Linked DNA regions of Homo sapiens: region 1 is linked to region 2. The links come from fine-mapping of genetic effects on gene expression. A gene starts in region 2. The other region holds a variant in brackets. All regions are shown on one strand. Distances are from middle to middle. Region 1 has its middle 150 kb from the start of CCDC90B. Region 2 holds the start of CCDC90B-AS1 (CCDC90B antisense RNA 1).

Evidence for each region.
Region 1: its variant is fine-mapped to the expression of CCDC90B-AS1 in testis (GTEx, PIP 0.91).

The regions. Positions count from the first base shown.
Region 1 is chr11:83,427,489-83,442,798 of GRCh38, reverse strand. No RefSeq gene overlaps it. Among named protein-coding and RNA genes, the nearest start is that of CCDC90B, 150 kb to the right of the region's middle. RefSeq lists enhancers at 1,085-1,778, 3,889-4,389. The variant A/G (reference allele first, on the strand shown) is at 6,641.
Region 2 is chr11:83,281,090-83,296,399 of GRCh38, reverse strand. CCDC90B-AS1 (CCDC90B antisense RNA 1) reads right to left here and starts at 10,280. Exons shown (of 3, transcript NR_186344.1): 1 at 9,853-10,280. It overlaps CCDC90B (coiled-coil domain containing 90B), which reads left to right and starts at 10,033. Exons shown (of 9, transcript NM_021825.5): 1 at 10,033-10,527. The coding sequence starts at 10,428. RefSeq lists enhancers at 9,996-10,645, 10,068-10,663, 10,696-10,775, 10,664-11,260.

The DNA of each region.
Region 1 (15,310 bases), 150 kb before region 2:
AAACCTTATCCAGGCTATCACCAATAATTCTACATGACAAATGTTTCTTCTAACAACCCCGCAATATCACCCCTTACCACAAAACCTTCCTTCAGCTTAATCTCTCCCACTCTAGGTTGCCAAGCGGCCCCTAATCCTGCTCGAAGCAGCCCTGAGAAACATCGCCCATTATCTCTCCATACCATCCCCCAAAATTTTCACTGTCCCAACACTTTACCACTATTTCATTTTATTTTTCTTATTAATATAAGAAGACAGGAATGTCATGCCTCTGAGCCCAAGCTAAGCCATCATATCCCCTGTTACCTGCACGTACACATCCAGATGGCTGGTTCCTGCCTTAACTGATGACATTGTCTTGTGAAACTCCTTCTGGCTCATCCTGGCTCAAAAGCTCCCCCACTGAGTACCTTGTGACCCCCACTCCTGCCCATCAGAGAACCCCCCTTTGACTGTAATTTTACTTTACCTACCCAAATCTTATAAAATGGCCCCACCTCTATCTCCCTTCACTGACTCTCTTTTCGGACTCAGCCTGCCTGCACCCAGTGAAATAAACAGCCTTGTTGCTCACACAAAGCCTGTTTGGTGGTCTTTTCACACAGATGCAAGTGAAAATGATAAACAGGCTTAGAGAGTTAAACTTATTTATCACATGAGAGATACAAAAAAATGATTCCCATTTATCAGTGATTTTTTTCCCCATCATGCCATGTTTTTAAAAAAACTCATTATTTTAGAATAGCTTTAGATTTACATTAAGAAAGCAAAAGTAGTACAGAGACTTTCCATACACACCAAAACTCAGTTTCCTCTATTGTTAATATCTTGTCGCAATTAATAAACCAATGTTGGTATATCATTATTCACTGAAGACTATGATTTATTCTGATTTTTTTTGGCATTTACACTTTTCCAAGGTTCTAACCAGGGAACTGTGTGATATTTTGTTATGTCTTTTTAGGCTCCTTTTCATTTTGACACTTTCTCAGTTATTGATGACCTTGACAGTTTTAAGAAATACCAGTCAGGTATTTCACAGAATGCCTCTCAACTGGAATTTACCTGATGTTCTTCTCATGATTAGACTGATATTACAGGTTTTGGGTAGATAAGTGCCATTCTTACCACATCAAGGGTCCACGACTATTACTGTGGATCTAACCTTGATCACCTGGCCCAGGTACTGTTTTTCAAGTTTTTCTACTGTAAAGTTACTCTTTTTTCCTCCATTTCATACTGTACTCTTTGGAAAGAAGTCACTGTGTGAAGCCCACATTTAATGAGTAGGGAGTCATGCTTTTCATCCTTGATTGCTGATATTTTTAGGCTTTGTGTCCCCACCTAAATCTCATCTTGAATTGTAATGCAAATAATCCGCACGTGTCAAGGGAGGGACCAGGTGGAGGTAACTGAATCACGGAGGTGGTTGCCCCCTGCTGTTCTTGTGCTAGCTAGTGAGTGAGTTCTCACAATATCTGATGGTTTTATAGGGGGGGTCTTCCCTCTTCACTTGGCACTTCTTCCTGCCACCTTGTGAAAAAGGTGTCTTGCTTCCCCTTCCCCTTCCCCTTCCGCCATGATTGTAAATTTCCTGAGGCCTCCCCAGCCATGCTAAACTGGGAGTCAATTAAACCTCTTTCTTTTATAAATTACTCAGTCTTGGGCAGTTCTTTACAGCAGTATTTAAGTGGACTAATACAAGTGCAAAGTAGCTACATGAATTATTTGAAACTTTTCTGTATGGAAGAGTTGTCCATTTGCCTCTATTTATTCAATAATTTGTTTCTATCAAGAGGGATTCTTGGATATTTATCTGATAGTTTTATAGTTTATTTAGTTTAGTTTTGCAGTTTAGTTTATCTGATAGTATTATAATCCAGAACTACTTTATTTTGCTATACAAATTGTTTCAGCTTTGTCCATTGAGAGCTTTTTCAGTTAACTCTGATGCTCCTTTGACATACTCCCACTATTGTGGATTTTTTGAGCATTTTCTTACTTTCTATACTACAAGAGGCTCAGGCTTATTTTGTATATTTCTTGCCCAGTCCTACCAATCCTAGAGTCAGCCATTTCTCCAAGGCTTTTTTATTGGAGAATGTTATTAAAAATTAAAATCTGGGTACTAGGTGTGTTCTTTGCTAATGGGACATTATTTCCTCTAGATCCTCTCAGTTGACAGAGCAAGGTAATGAATATGTGTATAGTAACTGGTGAATATAGAAACATTTATATATGCAACCATCTGTATCTATATTAAGCTAAACATGAGTTTCTACTGATATCTCTAGTCTAACTCATCACCACATGGACCAATCAAGCCTCTTCCTCTGACTTGTGTGTAAACTCTTACTCCAACAATGAGAAACCTGAGGCCAATCATTTTTCATCTCTTTATTTCTTTCTGACTCAGCAGATCCAGTACAGGACCCTCTGCTTAAGAAAATCTTGAAGAGACCAGGCACAGTGGCTCACACCTGTAATCCCAGCACTTTGGGAAGCTGAGGCAAGTAGATCACGAGGTCATGAGTTCAAGACCAGCCTGGCCAACACGGTGAAACCCTGTCTCTACTAAAAATACAAAAATTAACTGGGCATGGTGGAACATATCTCTAATCCCAGCTACTTGGGAGGCTGAGACAGGAGAATCGCTTGAACCCGGGAGGCACAGGTTGCAGTGAGCTGAGATTGTGCCACTGTACTGCAGCCTGGCGACAGAGCGAGACTGTCTCAAAACAAAAAGAAAAAAGAGTCTTCAAGAGGCTTCAAGTCTCTCACATTCTGACATTTAATGGTCTCTTGATTATCTCAGGCTCACGCTACTTTTTTCCACACTTGATGGTAAACATCTTCATTGTAATTCTTTAAGGGTTTCACACATCTGAGGCATGGAAAAATAACTAGTGAATAATTGATATAAAGGGCAACAAAGCCAACTTAAGAGGGAGATAATGTTTGTAGTAAAAAATCCGAAGGTAAAAATTTGTTTATGTAGCATCATTTTGAATTGTTATTAAGTCAGCCCTCAGTTTTCCTCATAAAGTACCCTACTCGTGTGTAGATCCACTCAGTCAAATGCAGTGGTTTATCCAGTGACCTACGATTGTCAACCCCCCCTTGCCTCTGCTTCCTGCAGTCTCCACAGGTGACACTTGGGTTCCAGGTGGTTTGCAACACTCCACGGCATCAGGAGGTGTGGGGTTAGCTTCCGCTCATCAAACCTGACCTGAGCCTCCTGCCTTCCTGCCACTGCCAATGCACTGGTCCCATCTGTTTTTCTCTGTGCTCTGAATCAACTCCCTTTTGGATAATACTTGGAAAGGCCTTAGCAAATAGACAAGATTAAGTTATCTGCAGGCAAATTATGAATTGTGTATCATGCTGCTTGTGTCAGGATTATTTAGTGAAAGGTAGAAAATACTTGAAAATACTAATATAGACTTACATGTACATTACACGTACTTCTCCAGTCAGCCATGTTATCTACCTTTGCTGGCAGCAGGTGGGGAAAGGGATGGGCAAAGGGAAAGTTGGATTGTTGAAGAAGAAATGTAAAGAAAAATAATAGCTGCTGAAAGCAAGACAATAGGTCTGAAAGTCTAAAATTTTTATGTGCATTTAACATATCAGCTTGATATAGAATTTTCCCTATAATGTAGATTAGAGAGCCATAAAACTAGAGGTAGAAGGCCAGGTGCGGTGGCTCATGCCTGTAATCCCAGCACTTTGGGAGGCCGAGGCAGGTGGATCACCCGAGGTCAGGAGTTCAAGACCAGCCTGGCCAACATGGTGAAACCCAGTCTCTACTAAAAATACAAAAATTAGCCAGGCATGGTGGCACACACCTGTAATCCCAGCTACTCGGGAGGCTGAGGCAAGAGAATTCCTACAGGCAGGGAAAAAGGAAGATACCATGAAATAGAAGAAGTAAAAGAGAAGCCCATCCCTTATAATCCAAGGCTACAGAAGGCAGAGGGTGGACAGAAGAAAGGAAAAAAAGGTCGGGAGGTAGACAAACTGTTCCAGTTTCTCTCCTTGGGCTGAAACCCTATAAGTGAGGAGAACAATTAGGGCATGGTCAGGAGCCCTCTGACCTATCTGGAACCCTGAGAGGAAGTGAGCCAAGATTGTGCCATAGCACTTCAGACTGGGCGACAGAGCAAGACTGTCTCAAAAAAAAAAAAAGAGGAAGTCTCATCTTGTGGGCCAGATACCCTAGCATGTCCATAAGAACTTGGGGATTGGCCACATCAGAGTAAAACTCAGTGGCACAGCATGGTCAGAATGGGACAGCCAGAGCTCAGCTCTCCTGAGCTGCTCTTTCTGTAAGATATGTTGGAACCTGGGAGTCCCCAATGGGCCCTAAAAATGGGAACCAGAAGGTGGCTGAATCTGAGAGCCAGCATTCCAACCATGGGACCTCCTGTGGTAAGGGGTGACTTAGCAGAGAAGGCTGAGCCCTACTCCAACGCCCCATCCCACCCCCAACCTGAAACCAATGGGGAACATGAGAGGCTCTGCGGAGAGTGAGATTGGTAGCCAGGAAGCACTGCAGCCTCTGCCACACCTAGAGAAACTGGGCTGCAAGCAATACCAGTTTTGATTTCAGATACAAATGCCAGTAGGGCAAGCATCCCTCAAGTCAACAAGGGATGTTGTCATAGAAACAAAAGACACTGTCATAGCAACCAGAATGATCTCAGGACACCACGTGAATCCAAAGGACTCTTTCCTTCCCACTGCCAAGAGGACACTGTAAGCCACAACCTGGCCCCGATCACCCAGAGGCTGTCTTAGCAAGGAGCAGAACTGCAGTCAGAAACCTGAGGGACAGAATGTTCACCTGAGGAGAATAATCTTTGCTTAAAGGGAATGTCTGAAATTATTGCAAGGGACTAACTGTATTATATAAAATAATATATATAATTTTCACTCCAACCTCCATCTCCCAGGTTCAAGTGATTCTCCTGCCTCAGCTCCCCAATAGTAGCTGGAATTACAGGCACCCACCATCATGCCTGGTAATTTTTGTATTTTTAGTAGAGACAGGGTTTCACCATGTTGGCCAGGCTGGTCTTGAACTCCTGACTTTAGGTGATTCACCCACCTCAGCCTCCCAAAGTACTGGGATTACAGGCGTGAGCCACCACACCTGGCCAAAATTATATTTTATATGGCATCTCTGATCCATAAACTCCAGCTAATTTAGTCAAGAATATATATTTTATGGGAGACTTCTGGGCAGCTCACAGAGTTAAGGAGAATCTGCAGTGGGAACCTGGAGTGGGAGTAGGCAGAGAATGCTCCTTGAAGGTAAATCTGTGCAAAGAGAAAGAAAGAAGGGTATAGGACAAGGGGAAAGTATGAAGAAATGCATATAGTGGGGAAAATACAGGCACCTTTAGGGACGTGCAAACAGCCAGGTATGCCTGGTACATAGAATGCTTAGGAAATGCTGAAGACTGGAAGCTGAAAAGACCAAGGAGAGAATGTCTAAATACAAGGCAAGGATGTTACTTCATCCTGTAAGCAATGAGGAGCTCCTCAGTGTTTTAAAAATCATATGTGCGTTTTAGAACGCTCACTGTGGCAGCAGTGTGAGGAATGACTTTGAGGAGGAAGAGACAGAAGTTTCCAGTCTGTGGGGAAAAGGACAAAGGATGAAAAGGGCAATGGAATGTGAGAGTTGCCACAGGTATTTTCCTCAGGAAAGGAGCACTGGAAGTGTCCTACACCCTCTGCAGCAGCCTGTCAAAGGCCAAGTCATCAACATATGCCCAGGATCTCTCTACTCTGGCCTTTTCAAGGGCTGCAGTCCTGCCATCATGCCCCTGGCTCACACCAACATGCAAACATACTCTGGTATCTCATCTCTAAAAATATTTTTCATGCCCTAGTTTACTTCCCAATCTTTCTATTCTGTTTCCTTAACTGGCGCTTCTCTCCTGGAGGTCTTCTCATGGTTGCTTCATATTGTTCCTGGACCAAACCGAGGGTCAGGCTGTTTATTCTTATGGCCCAATAATGAGATGCAGATGAACTGGGAAAAGAGGGGAGTTTTTTTCTGTAACCAGGTACAGAAAGAAGGCCTGGAAAATATTGCCAGACCAACTCAAAATTACAAAGTTTTCCAGAGCTTATGTACCTTCTAAGCTATACGTCTACATTTAAGTGTGTATGCCTCTAAAGACGCAAGTGATTAACTTCTAATCTATAACTCTCAGGCCTCTTAAGCCCAAGCTAAGCCATCATATCCCCTGTGACCTGCACCTATACATCCAGATGGCCAGAAGTAACTGAAGAATCACAAAAGGAGTGAATTTTAAATGGCCTGTTCCTGCCTTAACTGATGACATTCCACCACAAAAGAAGTGAAAATGGCCAGTCCTTGCCTTAACTAATGACATTACCTTCTGAAATTCCTTCTCCTGGCTCATCCTGGCTCAAAAAGCTCCCCCACTGAGCACCCTGGACCCCCACTCCTGCCCGCCAGAGAACCCCCCTCCTTTGACTGTAATTTTCCTTTACATACCTAAATCTTATAAAACGGCCCGACCCCTATTCTCCCTTCACTGAATCTCTTTTCAGACTCAGCCTGCCTGCACCCAGGTGAAATAAACAGCCTTGTTGCTCACAC[A/G]AAGCCTGTTTGGTGGTCTCTTCACATGGACGCGAGTGAAATTTTCGTGCCCTGACTTGGATGGGAGGGGGGAATCTCCCTCGGGAGATCAATCCCCTGTCCTGCTCTTTGCTCTGTGAGAAAGATCCACCTGTGTTCTCAAGAACTTAAAACCTCAACTGTCACCTGACCTAAAACCTAAACACCTTATTTTCTTCTGCAATGCTGCTTGACCCCAATACAAACTTGACAGTGGTTCCAAATAGCCAGAAAATGGCACTTTTGATTTTTCCATCCTCCAAGATCTAAATAATTCTTGTCATAAAATAGGCAAATGATCTGAGGTGCCTGATGGCCAGGCGTTCTTTCACAAATCGGTCCCTCTCTAGTTTCTGTTCCCAATGCAACTTGTCCCAAATCTTTCTTCTTTCCCTCCTGCCTGTCCCCTCAGTCCCAACCCCAAGCGTCGCTGAGTCTTTCTAATCTTCCTTTTCTACAGACCCATCTGACCTCTCCCCTCCTCGCCAGCCCGAGCTAGGTCCCAATTCTTCCTCAGCCTCTGCTCCTCCACCCTATAATCCTTTTATCACCTTCCCTCCTCACACTCGGTCCGGCTTACAGTTCTGTTCCACCACCTGCCCAGCAATTTCCTCTTAAAAAGGTGGCTGGAGCTAAAGGCATAGTCAAGGTTAATGCTCCTTTTTCTTTATCCGACCTCTCCCAAATAAATTAGCATTTAGGCTCTTTCTCATGAAATACGAAAAACCCAGCCCAGTTCATGGCCCAGTTAGCAGCAACCCTGAGACACTTTACAGCCCTAGACCCTGAAAGGTCAGAAGGCCGTCTTACTCTCAATATGCATTTTATTTTATTACCCAATCTGCTCCCGACATTAAATAAAGCTCCAAAAATTAAATTCCGGCCCTCAAACCCCACAACAGGACTTAATTAACCTTGCCTTCAAGGTGTACAATAATAGAGTAGAGGCAGCCAAGTAGCAATGTATTTCTGAGTTGCAATTCCTTGCCTCCACTGTGAGACAAACCCCAGCCACATCTCCAGCACACAAGAACTTCCAAACGCCTGAACCGCAGCTGCCAGGCATTCCACCAACCCCACCTCCCCCAGGAGCTTGCTACAAGTGCCGGAAATCTGGCCACTGGGCCAAGGAATGCCCCCAGCCTGGGATTCCTAAGCCATGTCCCATCTGTGCAGGACCCCACTGAAAATCAGGCTGTTCAACTCACCTGGCAGCCGCTTCCAGAGCCCCTGGAACTCTGGCCCAAGGCTCTCTGACTGACTCCTTCAGCTTAGCAGCTGAAGACTGACGCTGCTCGATCACCTCAGAAGCCCCCTAGACCATCAGGGATGCCGATCTTCAGGTAACTCTCACAGTGGAGGATAAGTCCGTCCCCTTCTTAATCAATACGGAGGCTACCCACTCCACATTACCTTCTTTTCAAGGGCCTGTTTCCCTTGCCTCCGTAACTGTTGTGGGCATTGAAGGCCAGGCTTCTAAACCTCTTAAAACTCCCCAACTCTGGTGTCAACTTAGACAATACGCTTTTAAGCACTCCTTTTCAGTTATCCCGACCTCCCCATTAGGCTGAGACACTTTAAATTATCTGCTTCCCTGACTATTCCTGGGCTACAGCCACACCTCCTTGCTGCCTTTTCCCCCAGTTCAAAGCCTTCTTCACATCCTCCCCTTGAATCTCCCCACCTTAACCCACAAGTATAGGATACCTCTACTCCCTCCTTAGTGACTGATCACGCACCCCTTACCATCCCATTAAAACCTCATCACCCTTACCTCGCACAATGCCAATATGCCATCCCACAGCACGCTTTAAAAGGATTAAAGTCTGTTATCACTCACCTGCTACAGCATGGCCTTTTAAAGCCTATAAACTCCCCTTAAAATTCCCCCATTTCACCTGTCGTAAAACCAGACAAGGCTTACAGGTTAGTTCAGGATCTGCATCTTATCAACCAAATTGTTTTGCCTATCCACCCCGTGGTGCCAAATCCATATACTCTCCTATCCTCAACACCTCCCTCCACAATCCATTATTCTGTTCTGGATCTCAAACATGCTTTCTTTACTATTCCTTTGCACCCTTCATCCCAGCCTCTCTTCGCTTTCCCTTGGGCTGACCCTGACACCCATCAGGCTCAGCAAATTACCGGGGCTGTACTGCCACAAAGCTTCACAGACAGCTCCCATTACTTCAGTCAAGCCCAAATTTCTTCCTCATCTGTTACCTATCTCAGCATAATTCTCATAAAAACACACATGCTCTCCCTGCTGATCATGTCCCACTGATCTCTCAAACCCCAACACCTTCTACAAAACAACTCCTTTCCTTCTTAGGCATGGTTAGATACTTTCGACTTTAGATACCTGGTTTTGCCATCCTAACAAAACCATTATATAAACTCACAAAAGGAAACCTAGCTGACCCCATAGATCCTAAATCCTTTCCCCACTCCTCTTTCTGTTCCTTGAAGACAGCTTTAGAGACTGCCCCCACCCTAGCTCTCCCTGACTCATCCCAACCCTTTTCATTACCCACAGCTGAAGTGCAGGGCTGTGCAGTCAGGATTCTTATACAAGGACCAAGACCACACCCTGTAGCTTTTTTATCCAACTTGACCTGACTCTTTTGCCTAGCCCTCAAGCCTGCGTGCAGTGGCTGCCGCTGCCCTAATACTTGTAGAGGCCGTTAAAATCATAAACTATGCTCAACTCACTCTCTACCGTTCTCATAACTTCCAAAATCTATTTTCTTCCTCACACCTGACACATACACTTTCTGCTCCCCGGCTCCTTCAGCTGTACTCACTCTTTGTTGAGTCTCCCACAATTACCATTGTTCCTGGCCCAGACTTCAATTGGGCCTACCACATTATTCCAGATACCACACCTGACCCCCATGACAGTATCTTTCTGATCCACCTGACATTCACCCCATTTCCCCATATTTCCTTCTTTCCTGTTCCTCACCGTGAACACACTTGCTTTATTGATGGCAGTTCCAACAGGCCTAATCGCCACTCACCAGCAAAGGCAGGCTATGCCATTGTATCTTCCACATCTATCATTGAGGCTACAGCTCTGCCCCCCTCCACTACCTCTCATTGCCTTAAGTCAAGCCCTCACTCTTGCAAAAGGACTACACATCAATATTTATACTGACTCTAAACATGCCTTCCATATCCTGCACCACCATGCAACAGGTTTCCTCACTACACAAGGGTCCTCTATCATTAATGCCTCTTTAATAAAAACGCTTCTCAAAGCCACTTTACTTCCAAAGGAAGCTGGAGTCATTCACTGCAAGGGCCATCAAAAAGGCATCAGATCCCATCGCTCAGGACAATGCTTATGCTGATAAGTTAGCTAAAAAAGCAGCTAGCGTTCCAACTTCTGTCCCTCACGGTCAGTTTTTCTTCTTCACTTTGGTCACTCCCTCCCACTCCCCCATTGAAACTTCCACTTATCAATCTCTTCCCACACAAGGCAAATGGTTCTTAGACCAAGGAAAATATCTCCTTCCAGCCTGTCTCTTCCTTTATAAAATGATGGCAGTTCGCTGAGCTATTACCATGTGCCAAGCACTGTGGTAGGTACTGGATACTGGTTCCAGCCCCAAGTCACTGCCAGGCCTATTGCGGGGGGATCAGATGAAGTGATGTACGTTGAAATGTTTTGACTGGGATTCAGAAGACTGTCGAAACCGAGTTTGAATATTCGCTAAGGTTTGCTGATGAGGTGCTATTTGAATAAAATACGGAAAAGTCTTTGCAGACCATGCAGCTACTTTGGGCTGCTTTTCTAGTCTTACCGACCCATTCTATTCTGTCGTCATTTCATAACCTCTTCCATGTAGGTTACAAGCCACTAGCCCATCTCTTAGAACCTCTCATTTCCTTTCCATCATGGAAATCTGTCCTCAAGGAAATCACTTCTCAGTGTTCCATCTGCTATTCTACTCCTCCTCAGGGATTTCTCAGGCCCCCCCTCCCCTCCCTACGCATCAAGCTCGGTACTGGCAAATTGACTTTACTCACATGCCTCGAGTCAGGAAACTAAAATACCTCTTGGTCTGGGTAGACACCTTCACTGGATGGGTAGAGGCCTTTCCCACAGGGTCTAAGAAGGCCACTGCGGTCATTTCTTCCCTTTTGTCAGACATAATTCCTCAGTTTAGCCTTCCCACCTCTATACACTCCGATAGCAGACTGGCCTTTATTAGTCAAATCACCCAAGCAGTTTCTCAGGCTCTTGGTATTAAGTGAAACCTTCATACCCCTTATGGTCCTCAATCTTCAGGAAAGGTAAAACGGACTAATGGTCTTTTAAAAACACACCTCACCAAGCTCAGCCACCAACTTAAAAAGGACTGGACAATACCTTTACCACTTGCCTTCTCAGAATTCGGACCTGTCCTCAGAATGCTACAGGGTACAGCCCATTTGAGCTCCTGTATAGACGCTCCTTTTTATTAGGCCCCAGTCTCATTCCAGACACCAGACCAACTTGGACTGTGCCCCAAAAAACTTGTCATCCCTACTATCTTCTGTCTAGTCATACTCCTATTCACCATTCTCAACTTCTCATAAATGCCCTGCTTTTGTTTACACTGCCGGTTTACACTGTTTCTCCAAGCCATCACAGCTCATATCTCCTGGTGCTATCTCCAAATAGCCACTCTTAACACCCTCTTAAAGTAAATAAATCTTTGCTGGCAGGGCTATGCTGAACCTCCTTGGGCACTCTCTAATTGGATGTCCTAGGTCCTCCCAATTCTTAGTCCTTTAATACCTGTTTTTCTCCTTGTCTTATTCTGTTCTTTTTTCAATTCATATAAAACCGTATCCAGGCCATCACCAATAATTCTATACGACAAATGCTCCTTCTAACAACCCCACAATATCACCCCTTACCAAAAAATCTTCCTTCAGCTTAATCTCTCCCACTCTAAGTTTCCATGCCACCCCTAATCCCGCTCAAAGCAGCCCTGAGAAACATCGCCCATTATCTCTCCATACCACCCCCAAAAATTTTCACCACCCCAACACTTTAACACTATTTTATTTTTCTTATTAATATAAGAAGACAGGAATGTCAGGCCTCTGAGCCCAAGCTAAGCCATCATTATCCCCTGTGAGCTGCACCTATACATCCAGATGGCCTGAAGTAACTGAAGAATCACAAAAGAAGTGAATTTTAAATGGCCTGTTCCTGCCTTAACTGATGACATTCCACCACAAAAGAAGTGAAAATGGCCAGTCCTTGCCTTAACTAATGACATTACCTTCTGAAATTCCTTCTCCTGGCTCAAAAAGCTCCCCCACTGAGCACCTTGTGACCCACACTCCTGCCCGCCAGAGAACAACTCCCCTTTGACTGTAATTTTCCTTTACCTACCTAAATCTTATAAAACAGCCCCACCCCTATCTCGCTTCACTGACCCTCTTTTCAGACTCAGCCTGCCTGCACCCAGATGAAATAAACAGCCTTGTTGCTCACACCAAGCCTGTTTGGTGGTCTCTTCATATGGACACGAGTGAATAACTAAGGTCTGAGTTTTGAAGACCTTCCTCTGGAGCCTCTGTAAATTTACTTAATCTGGATGGATCCAGGTGCTGGGGGCAATCTTCTCTCCTGCTAAATCATGGAGGTTTGGGGATTTCCTTTAGATCCCCAATAAAACTTGTTTTTAGAGGTCTTGGGAGTTTCTTCAGACCCTCAATAAAACTTGTTTAATCCTAAACGGGTCTTGTTAAGAATTCCTTCATTATCTCATCATACTTCAAGGCCCAAGAAAGGCCTGGGCAAAACTCTTGGTGGGTTTTTGTTACATTCCAGCCTTTGTATAAGGGTACTGACTCTTTCAGCTTTTAATATTTAACTTAACCACTCAGTCAGTGCTGAAACAGTTGTTAGAGGTTTGCCTGTTCAGCTGTTAGTGAAACCTGGCCTGACACAATATAGGCATCATGTCTGCCATCTAGGAAATATGGAGGGAAGAAGATAACTGAGTCTGTCCCTTTAAGAGAGATTAGATACAAACTCCACCCAATGAATTCTACTTACATCTCACTGGTTTCCCCAAATAGCAAGGGAGGCAGGGAAATACAGTTTTCTAACTAAACATCCTGCTGTCCCAAAACAGAGCAATAAGGAAGAAGGGGAGAATGGGTATTTTGGAAACAACCAAGAATACCTGCTGCACTTCCTGTGATCTCACATCTCCTTCTAAGACACCTCCTCCATTCCTCTCTTCCTAATATACTTTCTCAAAAGAGGTATCAATTTGTACTACGTTTACTTCCTTACTTCCCATTCTTTCTTCCAGTACCCACACCACACCATGGTGCTAAATCCAATGGGCAGACCACTCACTGTTCCTCATGCTCACCTTCTCTGTAGCATTCAAATATTTCCTCTAACAAACACTCTCCTTCCTCTCTTAGCTTCCTCAGCACCATGCTTTTGTTTTTCCCCCACCCTGCTGGCCATCCCTCATTCTGCCACTAGCTCCTTCTTCTTTATTCAATCTTATTCAGGTCAAGACTCACTCCTGCCCTTCTCCTCTCTGATCTCACCCAGTGCCACAGCTTTAAACCGTGTCTGTATGCTAACAACCCCAAGCTCATATCTGCAGCCAAGACCTCAGATCTTGTCCCTAGTCTCAGACATTTAGTCAACTACTTGGCATCTTAAACTGGTTCTCTTGCAAACATAGCATGCCCACACTGAAGCTCTCCCTGACACCCACTGCAAACCTGCCCTTGCCCCCTCTCAGAAAATGGAATCTCTGCCTGCCCAGTTTCCAGACCAAAACCCAGAAAAATTAATTTTGACCCCTTTATCTCTCTCACTTTCTATATCCAGTCCATGATCAAGTCCTGCCAGTTCAACTATAAATATTTTGTCAATTTATATTTATTCTCACTACCACCACCCCAGCACATGCCAACATCAACTCTTTCCTGGACTATGCCATGTCTTCCTAATTGTTTCCCTCCTCTCCACTCTTGCTCACCTTCAATCCAATCTACAGAGGGAGCTGAAGTGATTTTTGAGTACTGTAAATTGGACCATGTTTTTCTGTACTCAGAATCCCACGATGCCTTCCTATTGCACTTAGTAAAGTTGAAGCTTCTTACCTACATCCTACACGTTCCTTCCATTGCCTACTTTATCAGCTTTCCCCTCACTGTATGCTGATCATTCTTGTATCAGATCCTGAAACACACTAAGTTCTTTATTAGGCTAGAAACTTAGAATTTGCTGTTCCCTCTGCCTGGAAGTTTCTCTTTGCTCCCCACATAACTAGCTACCCTGCACATAGTACCTTGCCTGCAACTCACTAGGCACTCAATAACTAAATATTTGTTAAATGAGTGATTGGAATAAAAAGATAAGCATATAATATTACATTTAATCAATCTAAAACCTTTAGAAGTTACGTACTTTTAATCCTCATTTTATAGATAAGAAAACTGAGGCTCACAGAAATTCTGTAACTTCCCCAAGGATTCCCAAGAAGTAAGCAGAGAAAAAGGACTTCAAAGCCAGGTCAGGCAGGTTGCAGAGCCTGTTCATTTCTTCCACATGAGGCTGCTTCCACACACACACACCGTCTCTGCAGAGCATCAGCCACTCTGTTGGGTCATCTTTGTGCTTTTGAGCTGACCAGACAGTTAATAAAATGCCAGTTGCTTAATATGAGACATAAATTGAAAAGTCATCCCAGATTTCATTATCTTCCCACAACAATTATAATTGCAACTCATTAAAAATCTGATTCTGAAGGCAGAAAGAAATCATTTGCTCAGCAACAAGTCCAGAGTCCCTATTAATGCAGAAGAAGGCTTTAATAAGAAAAGTATCTGTTTCCATGAAGGATGGAAAAAATACTGAAATTGGTCCAGGTCCTTTGCAACTTCCTGGAGACATTTTACATCTCTCAAAGACTGCAATTGTGTATAGTAGCCAGTTTAACCATAAATATTTCCTGGTTGGCTAGCTACATTTTTTTCCTCTTCTCTCATATCGATTGATCTGGGCAGGAAGGTCAGGAAGGGTGAAGTTAGGCTAGAAATTAAAAGTTGTAACCCTTCTTTTACTGCCTTTACTTTACATTATTCTTGGCACTTTGATGAGCATTTTAACAACTCTAATAAGATTTGCTGCTAAGAAACCTTCTTAATTGCGTTTTACCCAGATTTCCTACACTTACATGACCATGGAATTCTTTATTCATAGTGTGTGTAGATTGTCTCCAGGATTGGCCACCACCAATTTCTCTCATCCCTATATGCACAGGCTGCTCCTCCTATCAACAGTCCATCTCCCCACCCCTAAAATCTAAGCTGGCCTTGTGATTTACTTTGTTCCGTAGAACGTGGCAAGAGTGATGCTGTGTCTGTTCTGGACCTAGCCCTTAGGAGGCCTGCCAGATTCTTGTTTTGCTCTCTTAGCAACTGGCTGCTATGTAAGAACTTTAACTATGCTATTGGATAAAGAAATCTACCTAGTCACCAGCCTCTCCAGCCACCTCAGCTGAGTAAGTGGAGCCTTCTTAGATGTTCTAACCCCAACCAATTTCCCAGCAGAATACAACCAGGTAAGAGAATCCAGCCAAGACCATACAGAATACAAAACAATATAGTTGA
Region 2 (15,310 bases):
AACTGAAAAAATATATTCAGACAAGTACATGTATGCACATGCTCATAGCAGCATTATTCATAATAGCCATAAAGTAAAAAGACCCCAAATGTCTATCAGCGAATGGATGGATAAACAAATCATGGTACTGATTGTGTGCAATAGAATACTGGCCATGAAAAGGAATGAAGTACTGATGCATGCTGCAACACAATGAACTTCCAAGATATTTTGCTAAATGAAAAAAGCCATATACAAAAGGTCACATGTATGATTCAATTTACGTGATACATCCAGAATAGATGAATCCATAGAGACAGAACACAGATCGGTGTTAGTCAGGGGCTGAGAGGAGTGGGGAAGGGGAAAAACCTGCTAAATAGGTCAGGAATTTTACTTTGGAGTGATGGAAATATTTTGGAACTAGATAGAGGTGGTAGTTGCACAACATTGTAAGTGTACTAAATGCTACTGAGTTGTTCACGTTTAAATGGTTAATTTTATGTGACGTGAATTTCTCAACAAATTTTTTTAAAGAAATGACCTAAATTACACAAAGAGCTAACAATAAAAGAAAGACCTTCTTGATGATAAGAGCTGAAAACAGGGTAAGGCTGGCAGGAGTAAAATCAATGAAGGGCCCCCAAATTCTCCCCACAGTAGTATAGATCAGTTCTTAAGAGATAGCTTTGTGGAGTCAAGGGCTCTTCCCCAGAGCCTAAGGTAGTAGCAGGAAAAGGCCTGAGGTAGGAGTCAGGAGCTGTGACTATGTCACTAAATAATCAGCGCCTCTCCCCTGAGCCTCAAGCTCCCTCAGTTGCAAACCCAGAAAACTACCTCCCGAGGCTGTTGTGAGGCTCAAAGCAAACAGTGAATATGAAGGTTTTCATTACCCATTATAAAAATGCAAAGTTTTCCATGTGCTTCAGGGTTGAAATTCCAGCTTGTTGTATGTCCCTGAACAAGCTACTTAACCCCTCTAAGTCTTGTTTTTGTCTCTACCTACCTTACATGATTGTTGGAGAATTAGAAATAATATACGCAAAGTGCCTGGTACCCACTAAACCCTCAGTAAGTTGAAGCTATTGTTAAATGGGTGGGAACAATTTCAGCAAGGAAGGGAAGGAATAAGAGAAAATGAGCAAAATGGGTGTTGGGATGAAGGTGGGAGTCAGTGGAAATGTCATGGCCAGTGCAGGATTATGGCAGCCTAAGGGGAATATATAATCTAGAAATGGCATATGTGCTGCCCCCTTTCTCTCCTGCATTCATATCAGATACTACCAATCAATCATGTATTCTTTACTGCTGCACCAAGATATGGCCTCACAACACTCATCACTTTGTTCTAAGCAGCCACGGTCAATTGAAGGGTATTGGCATGAAGATGAAACCCATTTGTCACTTCTGTACTAACAGTTTCTTGGAGGATGAGGGATGATGTGTCCCTAAGAGTACACATAATTTCACAATTTGTGCCATGTACCCAGTTAAAATAAATTGGTGGAAGGAACAGGGGTGACTTATCTATGCAGTGTGCAGCACAATCGATTATGAGTTCTACCACGTACTTGCTCTGTGACCTGGGACAAGTCACTTCAGCCTTCTGAACCTGTTTTCCCATCTATGAAACAGGAGCAATGGTACCCAGCTCACGGAGTTGCCAAAGAGCTCAAATGAGCTCATGTGTGTGAGATAAGAGATGAGGCAACACCTACATGTGAAGAATTTTTGAGGAAGAATGCCCCACCTTGTTGTTGGAGACAGGAAGGATACAGACCATGCTGAGAGTTTAGTGAGATTTTTCAGCTCTGCTATACCCCAGTGCGGAAAATGAATTCCAAAGTCAAGACCCCAAAATCCTATTTCCCTAGTCTTTCCCAGTGAGGTCCAAGGCAGCCAAGTCATACAATGAGGAGGACTTCTCCAATCAGGTACCTTGAGGCTGGAGCTGTAGGCTCTGCCAGGCCAGGGGTCTTCTCTGACCAGGAAAGGGGCAGATGTCTAGGGTTTTCCAGATCAGTACCTAGGACAGGGAATCTAGGTGAAATACACAGCCTTGACCGCTGAAGGACTCAGCAAAGGGCAGGCAAACACCCTTTTGGTTTTTTTCCTTTTCTTTTCATTTTTTCGTTTTCGTTTTTGAGACAGGGTCTCTGTTGCCCAGGCTGGAGTGCAGTGGTGCAATCAGGGCTCACTGTAGCCTTGACCTCCTGGGCTCAAGAGATCTTCCCACCTCAGCCCCCTGTGTAACTGGGACTACAGGCATGTGTCCCATTGCCCGGCTAATTTTTTTTAATTTTTATAGAGACAGGAGCTCGCTATGTTGCCCAGGCTGGTCTCAAATTCCTGGGCTCCACTGATCCTCTCACCTTGGCCTCCCAAACTGCTGAGATGACAGGGTGAACCACCATGCCTGGCCACCTTTCTTTTCAAAGCTACTCCCTAGCCTAATGCCCTTCAGTGATTCCTCTTACTCATGGATAAAGTAAAAAAGACCTTGAAGGCCAGCCTCACCTTTTCCAACCTCACCTTCTGAATTTCCCTACCCTTAACCCATTGCTCCAGCCATTCTCTCCATTCCCAAATGAACCAGGCTCTCTCACACACACTTCCCGGCTTTTGCAAGTGCTGTTGCCTTTTCCACACAACGTACTCCACACCACCATTCACCAAATCCATTTAACCAAACTGTCTTTCACACATCCTTTCAAACTAATGCCTTCCGACGGATCCCTGCTTAGGGTAATATAAGCCTCTCTTATGCATTCCCTTGGCAGCCTATACTACCCTTCATCATAATATTTATTACAATAGACTGTTGACAATCTGAGAGCAGGACTGTGTTTTATGTTTATATCTTCATGGCTTAGCACAGTGCCTGGCACCATAAATAGTGTTCAATAGTCATTCAAAGAAAAAATGAGTAATCGATGAGAGACACCAGGTTATGATGTAACATTGCAAAGTATATAATGTTTTGACAGCTCTTTCTTCTTCTTTTCTACCATTCTTTTAATCATTCTTTTCTTTGATTTATTTTAATGGGCAAACTCGGAATCGGGTGTCATTGCCAGCCTCCCTGTATAATTAGGAAAAAAAAAATTTCCCCAGATTTTCAGGGAATACGGGCTGATAGTCACTTTCCAGCCATGCAAAATGTGAAATTAACATAAAGCTACACAAAGCTTTTGTGACAATGGGCCCTCTGACTCAGCTTCAGAGATGAGAGCAAAGAAGCAAAGAATTGTCCTTGGTTCTTTTCACATCCTCCCCCTAGTGGCAAGAGCTCCAAGTAAGCTAAGGAAGAAAATGAAACCCATTTGGTCCAGAGCTCTCTCTTTCTCAATGCCTCATTCACAGGCTTTAAAACACATCGAGATTCCTTCACATCACCTATTCCAAGAGAAAATGACTGACACATGTGAGTGGTCCAGGCTGCATTCTCTCTCCGTGAAGTCACCAGAGCTATAGTCGTAGTCCTGGGTGATCTCTGGTCATCTGATACAATTGTGCCCAAGCTGGGACCCCAGACCTCTAAACATCAGAGGAAAGAGTACTGGAGCAATGGGGTCCTCAAGAGGATTTGGACATATTAAAATGCCTCAAAAAATTGTATCATTGCTGGAGATGAAATTGGAAACCACTGAAGAAATTGGCAAGTATCTTCGCCTTCCCCTGTAAATTTATCAGCTTACTGTTAAATCAGCACTGCTTATCTCCCACTCACCAACAGTAACTTATCTTGAATTAATGGAAAATAGGAAAATAAGTAGTGGCTTCATACATGTTGTTGGTAAAGAGTGTAAGCTGTGTTTTAAATGGGAGCTTATAAAGGTAAAAAAAAAAAAGTGGTTATTTGCAATGAAAAAAACCAGGACCCACTTCCCTGCTACCCTGTTGGCCTTTGAGATTTAGATAAACTAGGCTGCTTTCAGCAGGGGAGCATTTCTCATGTCCAGGCCATCTCATCAGACATTGGAAGAGGAAAGGATTCATTTGCCTACACTAGCAAATGGCAAATAGTTATTTTCTAGAAAGAAATTCAAACTGATTTTTATCTATTTTAGCTCAAAAAATTTCAAAATCTCCTGCAAGTCCACTGTATGAAATTCAATTTCCTTAGTCTTTTTTATTCTACCTTTTTCATTTTGTTCACCCCAATTCCACCCAGTCTTCATATAATTCCTATGCCCCAGTCTACGAAGTTTCCTCACCAAACTATGACCATATTTTGAACATTCACTCATTCATTCAACACACACTTACCAAAAGCTTGTTATGGCCCAGGCATGATAAGCACTGGAGACACCATGACACATATGGTCTCTACCATAATGGAGAAAACAAATATTAAGTGCAGAGACATGGGAAGGCTGGGTTGCTGTATGAGTCCATAACAAAAGTACCAAATCTGCATGTTGTTTGAGTGGGAATGACTTCTTAAAGAGTTACTCTAAAAAGTCACCATTTAAACTGGAATCTGAAAGATATAAAGGAATTGGCCAGATAAAGAGGAGAAAGAGCTCCAAGTTGAGTAGTGATGCTTTACCATATGCAAAGTCCCTGAGTAGGAAGGAGCAAAGCGATGAGTAAATTGTACTTGCTCACTCCAATCCTCTCTCCTGGACCCCTTGCCTTACAACCTCTACTAACTAAAACCCCTAAGGTTCAAATCCTATCTCTTCTTGATAACCATTATCAAAAAGCATTTAACCTTCAACTGAATTATAGGATTTATTATTTTCTTAACATTTACATGACACTAACCTATTAAAGCTCTGTGTTGAAGGCTATTAAAATGCTTGTTCTATTCTCTCAGTTATTAATATATTACAAATTACTGGAGAGCAGAAATCTTTGCAATCCTTGCGTATCCTAGCAGAAATCCCTGCACGTAGTAAGAACTTGAATAGTTGTTGGATTGAACTGGTTTTCTTTACATTCCTCACATCTAACCTTAAACCTAGCTGGCACTCAGATATTTCTGTAAGTAAAACTGGAAAAATGAAAAATGTTTAAAAGTCCAGAGAAGAATAATATTGTGAAGGGTCCGAGATCTTACCCTATTAGCAGGCTATCAAGTTATCCTGTCATGGTTGCATGGATGCTGGTAGAAGATATGAGACTCCTTGCTAGAAACAAAGAACCCAATTACTGATGGTGCAGCGAGCAGCACGAGTATCGGCATATTTGTGTCAGCTCCCCTTGGCCCCAAGTTCATGGGGATGATGCAGCTGGGGCTACGTAGATGCCTGAGCACGTACAGTACATTGCATTACAGAGAGGAACCCTGACCTATGAGAACACAAATCTTTTATAATAGGCAGTAAGCATGAGGCCTTTTGCTCCAGAGAGAGATGCTATATTTCCTAAGGTTGTTCGTTATACAAAACTGCCACAACAAAAGGCAGAGAAGACCTCCATTTGTAAAACATACAGAAACATGAGACACCCATGGAAATTATTTCCTAACTCTGAGTAAGCAGGTATTATTATTGTTTATTGGGTGCTTGTATATGCCAGGTCCAGTGCTAAGTATTTTAGATGCATCATCTTTTCTATTCCTCTCAACAAACATGAGAAAACATTAACAAATTTATGGAAAAATATTTTTATAAATTAAGATGTTTAACAAAGAAACAATAGCAACCAAGGAGAATCTGAAAATACACAGGAGCATTAGGAGGTCTCAGAGAGGAGCTGTATCTATTAGCTGAATACTATCTGGACTCACTTCATCTGCTATTCCTGCTTTTCCTTCCTATGCTTCTCTGGCCTGCATGGTAGATTATGGATGACCCAAGCTCCTGCACTCACTTGATATAGTTCCAGCCAGCCTCAGAGAATGATTAAGAATCCCTGGATCTAATTGCCACTTCCATCAAAGAGAACATAATCAACACTGTATATGTGTGTTACAGAGAGAGCTTTATGTTAATATAAATAATAGTAACATGAATTAATATATAAAGAGATCCACTTTTTTCATAATAATTCCTTAAGTTAAGTAAAATATTGTGATAACACTTACTGGTCTGTATCTTCCACTAGCCTGTTAGCTCCTCCCAAGCAGGGATCCTATCATTTAACAGAATTATAATCATGTATATAATTATAATTATAATCCTGTATATAAGAATTATACAGAATTATAATTATGTATATACATGTATTAAGGATTTTCCTGTCACTAAGATTATTTTTAAAAATACTAAATTCTTGCATAATATTCCAAATTGGGACACTTCTGCAAGTTATTTAATCACTTTTGAATACTTAGACTATTTTCAATTTTTCACTACTATAAATAACATTGCAATAGTCATCCTTTTCAAAAATCTTAGCTACAGATGTGATTATTTACTATGGATAGCTTCTTAGAAGTGAAACTCTAGGCCAGGTGCGGTGGCTCACAGTTGCCTGTAATCCCAGCACTCTGAGAGACCGAGATGGGTGGATCACCTGAGGTCAGGAGTTCAAGACCAGCCTGACCAGCATGGCGAAACCCCACCTCTACTAAAAATACAAAAATTAGCTGGGTGTGGCAGCGCATGCCTGTAATCCCAGCTACTTGGGAGGCTGAGGCAGGAGAATTGCTTGAACCCGGGAGGCTGAGGTTGCAGTGAGCCAAGATCACACCGTTGCACTCCAGCCTGGGTGATAGAGCAAGACTCTGTCTCAAAAAAAAAAAAAAAAAAGAAGAAGTGAAACTCTGGCTATTTACTTTTTGGAGTTTCATAAATATATTACTAAATTGCTAAAGGCCAAAACTGGAAACACATTCCCCTTGAGAACTGGAACAAGAAAAGGATGCCCATTCTCACCACCCTTATTCAACATAGTACTGGAAGTCCCAGCCAGGGCAATCAGGCAAGAGAAATAAATAAAGATATTCAAATAGGAAGAGAGGAAGGTAAACTATCTCTCTTTGCCAACGATATGATTCTACACCTAGAAAACCCTAAAGACTCTCCCAAAGGCCCCTGGAACTGATAAACAAATTCAGTAAAGTTTCAGGATACACAATCAATGCACAAAAAATCAGTAGCATTTTTATACACCAATAATGTTCTAGCTGAGAATCAAATCAAGAACACAATCCCATTTACAATAGGCACAAAGAAAATGGAATACTCAGGATCATCTCACCAGGGAGGTGAAAGATCTCTGCAAGGAGAACTACAAAACACTACTGAAAGAAAGCAGAGACAACACAAATAAATGGAGAAATATTCCATGCTCATGGGTTGGAAGAATCAATACAGTTAAAATGGCCATACTATCCAAAACAAATTACAGATTTAACGCTATCCTTATCAAAATACCAACATCATTTTTCACAGAACTAGAAAAACCTCTTCTAAAATTAATTTGGAACCAAAAAAGAGCCTGAATAGTCAAAGCAATCTTAAGCAAAAAGAACAAAGCAAGACTTCAAACAATACTATAAGGCTAAACTAATCAAAACAGCATGGTAGTGTTACAAAAACAGACACATAGACCAGTAGAACAGAATAGAGAACCCAGAAATAAAGCCACACACCTAAAACCATCTGGTCTTCAACAAAATCAACAAAAATAAGCAACACGGATAGCATTCCCTATTCAGTAAATGGTGGTGGGATAACTGGCTAGCCATATGCAGAAGAATGAAACTGGACCCCCCTACCTCTCACCATATACAAAAATTACCACAAGCTGGATTAAAGATTTAAAAGTAAGCCCTCAAACTATAAAAACTCTAGAAAAAAAACTAGGAAATACCCTTCTTGACACAGGCTTTGGAAAAGAATTTATAGCTAAGTCCCCAACAGCAATTACAACAAAAATAAAAACTGACAAGTGGGACCTAATTAAAGAGCTTCTGCACAGCAAAAGAAATTACCAACAGAGTAAACAGATAGCCTAAGAATGGGAAGGAGAAAATATTTGCAAACTATGCATCTGACAAAGGTCTAACATCCAGAATCTATAAGGAATTTAAACAAACCAAGAAGTATAAAACAATCCAATTAAAAAATGAGCAAAGGACATGAACACACACTTCTCAAAAGAAGACATACAAATAGCCAACAAACATGAAAAAATCCTCAACACCACTGATCATTAGAGAAATGCAAATCAAAACTACAATGAGATGCCATCTCACACCCATCAGAATGGCAATTATTAAGAAAAAAAATTCACATATTGGTTAGGCTGTGAAGAAAAGGGAATGCTTATACTCTGTTGATGGGAATGCAAACTAGTTCAGCCACTATGGAAAGCAGTTTGGAGATTTCTCAAAGAACTTAAAATACAACTACCATTCAACCCAGCAATCCCACTACTGGGTATATACCCAAAGGAAAATAATTCATGCCATCAAAAAGACACAGAGCTGGGCACCGCAGCTCATGCCTGTAATCCCAGCACTTGGGAGGCCTAGGCGGGTGGATAGTTTGAGCCCAGGAGTTCTGGACCAGCCTGGGCAACATGGCAAGACCCCATCTCTACAAAACATGCAAAAATTAGCCAGTTGTGGTAGTGCACACCTGTAGTCACAGCTACTTGGAAGCCTGAGGCAGGAGGATCAGTTAAGCCCAGGAAGTTGAGGCTGCAGTGAGCCATGCACGACTGCACTCCAGCCTGAGTGACGCAGCAAAACCCTGCCTCAAGCCAAAAAAAAAAAAAAAAAAAAAAAGACACATGCAACCGTATGTTCATTGTAGTGCCATTCACGATAGCAAGGACATGAAATCAACCTAAGTGCCCATCAACAGTGGACTGGATAAAGAAAATGTGGTACATATACACCATGGAATATAATGCAGCCATAAAAATAAGGAAATTATACTCTTTGTAGCAACATGGATGGAACTGGAGCCATTATCCTATGCAACCTAATGCCAAGAACAGAAAACCAAATACACATGTTCTCACTTATAAGTAGGAGCTAAACATTGAATATATGATGGTAAACGTGGAAACAACAGGCATTGAGGATCATTAGATGAGGAAAGGGGGAGACGGACAGAGGGGCATGGGTTGAAAAAGCACCTGTTGAGTACTATGCTTACATCCTGTTGGGATCATTGGGACCCCTAACCTCGATATACCCTAAGGTTTTGCGTTTTGTATTTTGAAACTGGTAAGATCAAACTTTTTTCCCAATTTTTTTTTTTTTTTTTTAGATCGAGTCTCACTCTGTCGCCCAGGCTGGAGTGCAATGGTGTGATCTCGACTCACTGCAACCTCCGCCTCCAGGATTCAAGCGATTCTCCTACCTCAGCCTCCTGAGTAGCTGGGATTACAGGCATGTGCCACCACGCCCGGCTAATTTTGTATTTTTAATATAGACAGGGTTTCTCCACGTTGGTCAGGTTGGTCTCGAACTCCCGACCTCAGGTGATCTGCCCGCCTCGGCCTCCCAAAGTGCTGGAATTACAGGCATGAGCCACCACGCCCAGCCATCCCAGTGTTTTAAATAGCAATTTATATTTCCTCTTCATGAATTGTCTGTTAAAGCAGTTGTTGGCGGGAATCAAGTTTTGTTCTTTCAATGTGCTTCGGGCCTTAGAAATGGTGTTTGTTACTTAGTTGACTCTCACAAAGCTTTGAATACATATAGATAGAAACCTAGCCGTAATTGTTTAGAATCTTGAGAGAGTAAGCCACTAACACCGCACAACTGTGTGCCATTTTACAACTTACAGAGAATATTCATGAGTATTAGTGCATTTTAATACAACTACTGTGCATTGTTGCTTTCAGCATTTTACTATGCGGAGCAGTCTTGAGTAACTGAGGTCTGAGAAGGATAAATGGTGAAAATTCAAGGAATTTCTCCTAGAAACGGAGGAATTCGGCTTCCCTAAAGAAAGGACATACCGACTGAAATAGTTGGTCCTCCCGTGCACCAGAGGGTGAAGCAGCAGGATGTGACGCCTCACGAAAAGTGAGCGGCTTGCTGGACTACACTTCCCAGAAGGTTTCGTTGGCCCTCGCACTACGCAATCACCCAGAACGCTCAGCGGCCGAAAACTTCAGGTTCCAGGCTGCTGTGCGGCTAAATGCGACTCCATCTCCCCCGACCCAAGCGCGTAATGGCCGCTGGCTATCTTGGGGGAGCCAGCTGTTGGACTATGCCCCACTGCCAGGAAACAGGCGCCGGAAGGTTCTCTGACAAGATCTCGCTTTCCTAGGGCGGTGAAGGCGTTCAAAGGTCGGGAAGGGGCGCTGGGAGAAGCGGGGCAGCGCTGAGCCATGCTCGCGAACTGTGGGTCTGTCTGTGAAGAGACCCAGTTTCGTGGGACCACGGTGGCGCCTGCGCTGGGAGGTGAGCTTGTGACAGAGCGAAAACTACAATTCCCAGCATTCCTGTGGTGCCAGAACTACCTTGCCCGAAAGCCTGTGCGAGATTTACCCCGTCTTCCGCCTCCCTCCCACCGGAAAACTCTGAGGACATGAATAGTCGCCAGGCTTGGCGGCTCTTTCTCTCCCAAGGCAGAGGAGATCGTTGGGTTTCAAGGCCCCGCGGGCATTTCTCGCCGGCCCTGCGGAGAGGTGAGGCAAGGCGTCGTGTCATAGATGCCTGAGTGCTCTCTAGGGAGACGATGCCCGTGGGGTCGCGCCTGCTCGAGCGAACGGGAAGAGAAGGTGCCACGCCCTCCTCCCGGATTCACGCCTTGTGCTGGGCGACGCCGCTGCCTGCTGCCCCGACTTGCCCAGCTCGCCCCAAGGGGCGAGGACTGAGGAAAGCACTGCCTTTCTGTTCTTAAAGCGAACCTTTGAAGGCCTGGGCTTCGCGCCCGGCTTCTTTCTCAGCCGTTGTTTCCGTTTTTTGGTGACAAGAGGCTAGTAATCTCGTCAGGAGCCAACGTAAGGTAATCTGTGTTTGAGGGTGTCCTGTTTTCTTTTGTGGCCTGATCAAATTTTGATTTTGTTTTTTTAGGTGCTGGCCTCGAGCCCAGGTTTTTGGTAGACAGCATCATAAATTTCAGGCCACGTCTGCCTTATTCTCACTGGAATTCTCAGTACATTTCAGTCACATTGTAGACTTTGGGAAAATAAGTGAATACTGGAACCCACAAGTTTCCAACCTGTTGGCACCCCTGTTAACAGGGTGTCCTGAAGACATCTAACTTTATTCAGAGAAATGTTTCTAGGGCTAGGTTTTTGTTGTCGTCGTTGTTTTTCACCCCCAGTTTTTTAACTTCCCTCCCAGTTTTTAAACCGTTTTAAGGTTGTCCACAAAATAGGCGAATAGGCACCTCTTATCTCTGTTCACCTTCTTGAATCTTCAGTGCCAGGTACGCTGAGCCATTCGGTACCCAAACACTTCTACGCTGTTATTTATACTCCATATTGTTACTTGTGCTATTTTGCTCATTGTTTCATTTTAATCCACACCAGTAACAGCTGCAGTCAAAACTGCAGTTGTTGATCCTCCATCTGTGAGATTGCTGTTTAGCTGCCAGGGTCATTCACAAGGTCTCTTTTGTTAGGTATTTGAGTGTTTAGCATACATACACATTATGATGGATTTTACAAAAAGGAGGTAGCACTTTTGAACTCCAGGAAGTCATCCAGCTGCCATCTTTGTTGACTTTTACATATCCAAATGAAAACAAAATTAAATGTTCTTAGAGAATGAACTTTGAAGTGTATATCATACTGGGAAATAAATGACCATAAGTACATGTTAATGTTTTAACATAAAAGTTATCCCACTTGAATCTGAGTGTTCTTGGAGAAACCTTAAATCTCTTCTTACAACTAGTAGGATTTGTGTCCTTCCTCACTAAACAAATATTGAATGTTTATTTTATACAAGTAGTTTAAACTTGCCTAATAATGTCAATAATCAAGGGATTTGAAAACCTTGACCTCTGACCAATGGAAGGACCTTAGTTATTCTAGTGCAACTAGTGTAGCACGTTAGTAGACCAGCATGTAAGAATATATGCTGTTAATGCCTGTTCTTTTGAATTCCTGACAGAAAAGTAACTGGCTATACACTGAAGTGTTTCAGCTGTAAAATTAGCAGTAAATTAATATAAAACTTGCAGCTTAAATTTAATGGGACAACACTTTACATGTTTGCTTGGTTGTTTTTTCAAAAGTAAAATTTGACCTTTTCCAGCAAAGAGGAGCTTGGTGCAAGATAGGCCAGAGTTCCAATCCACAATCTATGACTTAGTAGTTTTGTGAAACTGGTTAAACCTTTAAACTCTTGAGTTTGTATCTCGCTATTACGAACAAACAAATCCACAAGATAGGTATCAAAGAAACAAAAGTAGTAACAATGAAAGGAAAGGTTTGGGGTTTTGTACAGATGTTTAAGTCTGTACAAAACTCTTCAAATTATTAAGGATCTGTTATTCCACTTTGAGCTGGAAACACTGATTCTGGGCACTTCATCTCCCCTACCTATTAATATGGCTGCAAAGACTTACTTATTTTTATTTTTTATTTTTTTGAGACAGGGTCTCTGTCACTCAGGCTGGTGTGCCTTGGCGCCATCTCGGCTCCCTGCAGCCTGTGCCTCCCAGGCTCAGGTGATCCTCCCACTTCAGCCTCCCAAGTAGCTGGGACTACAGGCACACACCACCATGCCCAGCTAGTTTTTGTAATTTGTGTAGGGACAGAATCTTCCCACGTTGCCCAGGCTGATCTCAAACTCCTAGGCTCAAGCAATCCGCCTGCCTTGGCTTCCCAAAGTGCTAGGATTACAGGCATAAGCCACTGCACCCGGCCTGTAAAGACATTCTTAATGAGTGCTTATGCACTGAACTGCCCATGACACAGTTGGAATAGTGATTATGACACCCTACTATGAATATCCAATGGTTTTTCCAGTTCCTTATGGCTTCCAAAGTGGAGTGAAACCCAAAGTTCTACTGCCAGTGGGTGTCAATACCTACCTCATAGGATTGGGAGGACTAAGCAAAATATTATGTGAATATTTGAGCACATATAAGGAATAATGTTTTACATATCCTTCTGTATTCTCAGCTCTCCTTAACCCCATAATAAATAGAAGCCAAGAGAATAGCAAAGGCAGCCCATGCCTAGATTTTGCTGATTTCATTCATCCTGTCTGGATAACTTCTCTCAGATTTAATATAGTTCTACCATCATCCAAATAGCCATTCTTGATCCTTTATTCTCAAGGAGGGCCAAATGCTTCTCCTTTGTATTATTCATCATTGTGTATACATAATGCCAAGCACAGTGCCTTTCATTCAGCAAGTATCTATGGAGCATCCAGAATTGTGTAGGCATTGGGGATTCAGTAGTGAGCAAGAACAGATGTGGTCCCTGCTCTCAAGGACTGTATAGTTTAGTGCAGGGGTTGACAAACTTTCTGTAAAGAGCCTAATAAATATTTCAGGCTTTGTAGGCTGTAAGGTCAGTCACAACTATTTGCTTTGCCACTGTAGCATGAAAGTAGCCATAGATTAATCCATAAATGAATGAGCTGTGTTCTAATAAAACTATCTAGTTCTAATGAATAAAACTAGAAAAACAGGCGGTGGTAGTCTATGGGCTATAGTTGGCTGACTGCTGGTCTCTTGGGGAGACAACTGAGAGTCACATAAATGTGTAAATTATGAGAGGGTTTGCAAAAGAATCCTGTGCAGTACTATGAAAAACCATCATGAGAGAGACATAACCTAAAGGAGTCATCAGGCTTTCCAGAGGAAGAAACATTCAGACTGAGCTCTGAAGGATAAACATGAGCAGGCAAAGAAAAGGAGAGCTTTCTGAACAGGGCAGGGGCTAGGCAAAGGCCCTGAGAAGGGAAAGCACATGGCATGTTTGTGGAATTAAAATCAAAGAGCCCTTGAAAGCAGAGGACCAGAGAGAGCATAGTAGGACATGAGACGAGCTGCACCCTACAAAGATTTATTGGCTTGTTAAGGTATTTGGTCTCTATCCCAAATTTAGCAGGAAGCTGCTGGTATTCAGAGTGTTTGTTGACTAAGTCAGAGGAACTGTACTAATCTGCCTAGCTATGAGACCATAAGATCTCAGACTAATTACAGACAGTCCTCAACTTAAGATAGTTTAACTTAAAAATTTTTGACTTTACCATGGTGCAAAAACAGTGTGCATTCAGTAGAAACTGTACTTTGAATTTTGATCCTTTCCTAAGCTAACGATAATGCAGTATTCTTGCAATACTGGGCAGGGGCAGCAAGCCGCAGCTCCCAGTTAGCCATTGATCACAAGGGCAAACAACCAATACTTAGTATTGCCAGGGTTTTTGGGTTTTGTTTTTGCATCCCATCGTGTTTACAAAATGCCCATCTGGGTGTCTACATGAAATATTCAACACTTTATTATAAAGTAGGCTTTGTGTTAGATGATTTTGGCCAACTATAGGCTAACGTAAGTGTTCTCGACAAGCTTGAGGTAAGCCAGGCTAAGCTGTGATGTTCAGCAGGTTAGGTGTATTAAATGCATTTTCAGCTTAGGATATTTTCAATTTATGATGGATTTATTGGGACATAACCCTTTTATAAGCTGAGGAGCATCCATACTTAGCCCTGAGCCTCAATTTACCTCATCCATAAAATGAGAATTTTAAGGATGGGGTAATAGATGTGAAAACAGTAAAATATTATTTAAATATTATTACTGATTTTTTTTTTCTAAATCCAAATAAACTTCTAATCAGGAATATGTAACTAAGAGTACCATCATTACTCCTAATGCAGTTGTTATTGAAACTACTGAAATCTGCCCCTTTTTCCTCTAATTTTTCTTTTTCTCTCCTACCTTAGGTCTGATATTTACACACAAAGGCATAGTTCTTTACCCTTCTAGATGACATTCAAGTGAAAAAGATTACTGACCAGTGTACTAATATGTGTGTTTTTAAAAATTGCTCCACCTTTATTTACAGCTACTTGCTTTTATCTCTTCAGTTAAATAGAATTTTTTGGAGTATTTTAATGAATCTTTTATCATTTGAATTTAGAGTTTATTGTTAGATTTTTTAAAAAAAACAATATCTGTTTCCTGCCTTCTAGTCCATAAAATCAGTGAGAATATCATTTATGTCTGGTTTTGCTTATGATTTTATCCCCTATGCCTGGCACAAGTTCTAGCACTCAATCAATATTCATTAGGCTAGAAGGATATAAAGAAGGAATCACATTTGTCCTACACAGTACTAGTGGAAAAATAATGCCTGAAGTTGCAGCCTTTTAAATATCTAGATATTTTAAGTGACTTAAGATACATAAGAGAGACAGCATGGAGTGTAAGATTTGGAGTCAGAAGTACCTGAGTCTGAATCCTAATTCTGCCATTGGCTCTGTAAAGGTAACTCCTTCAC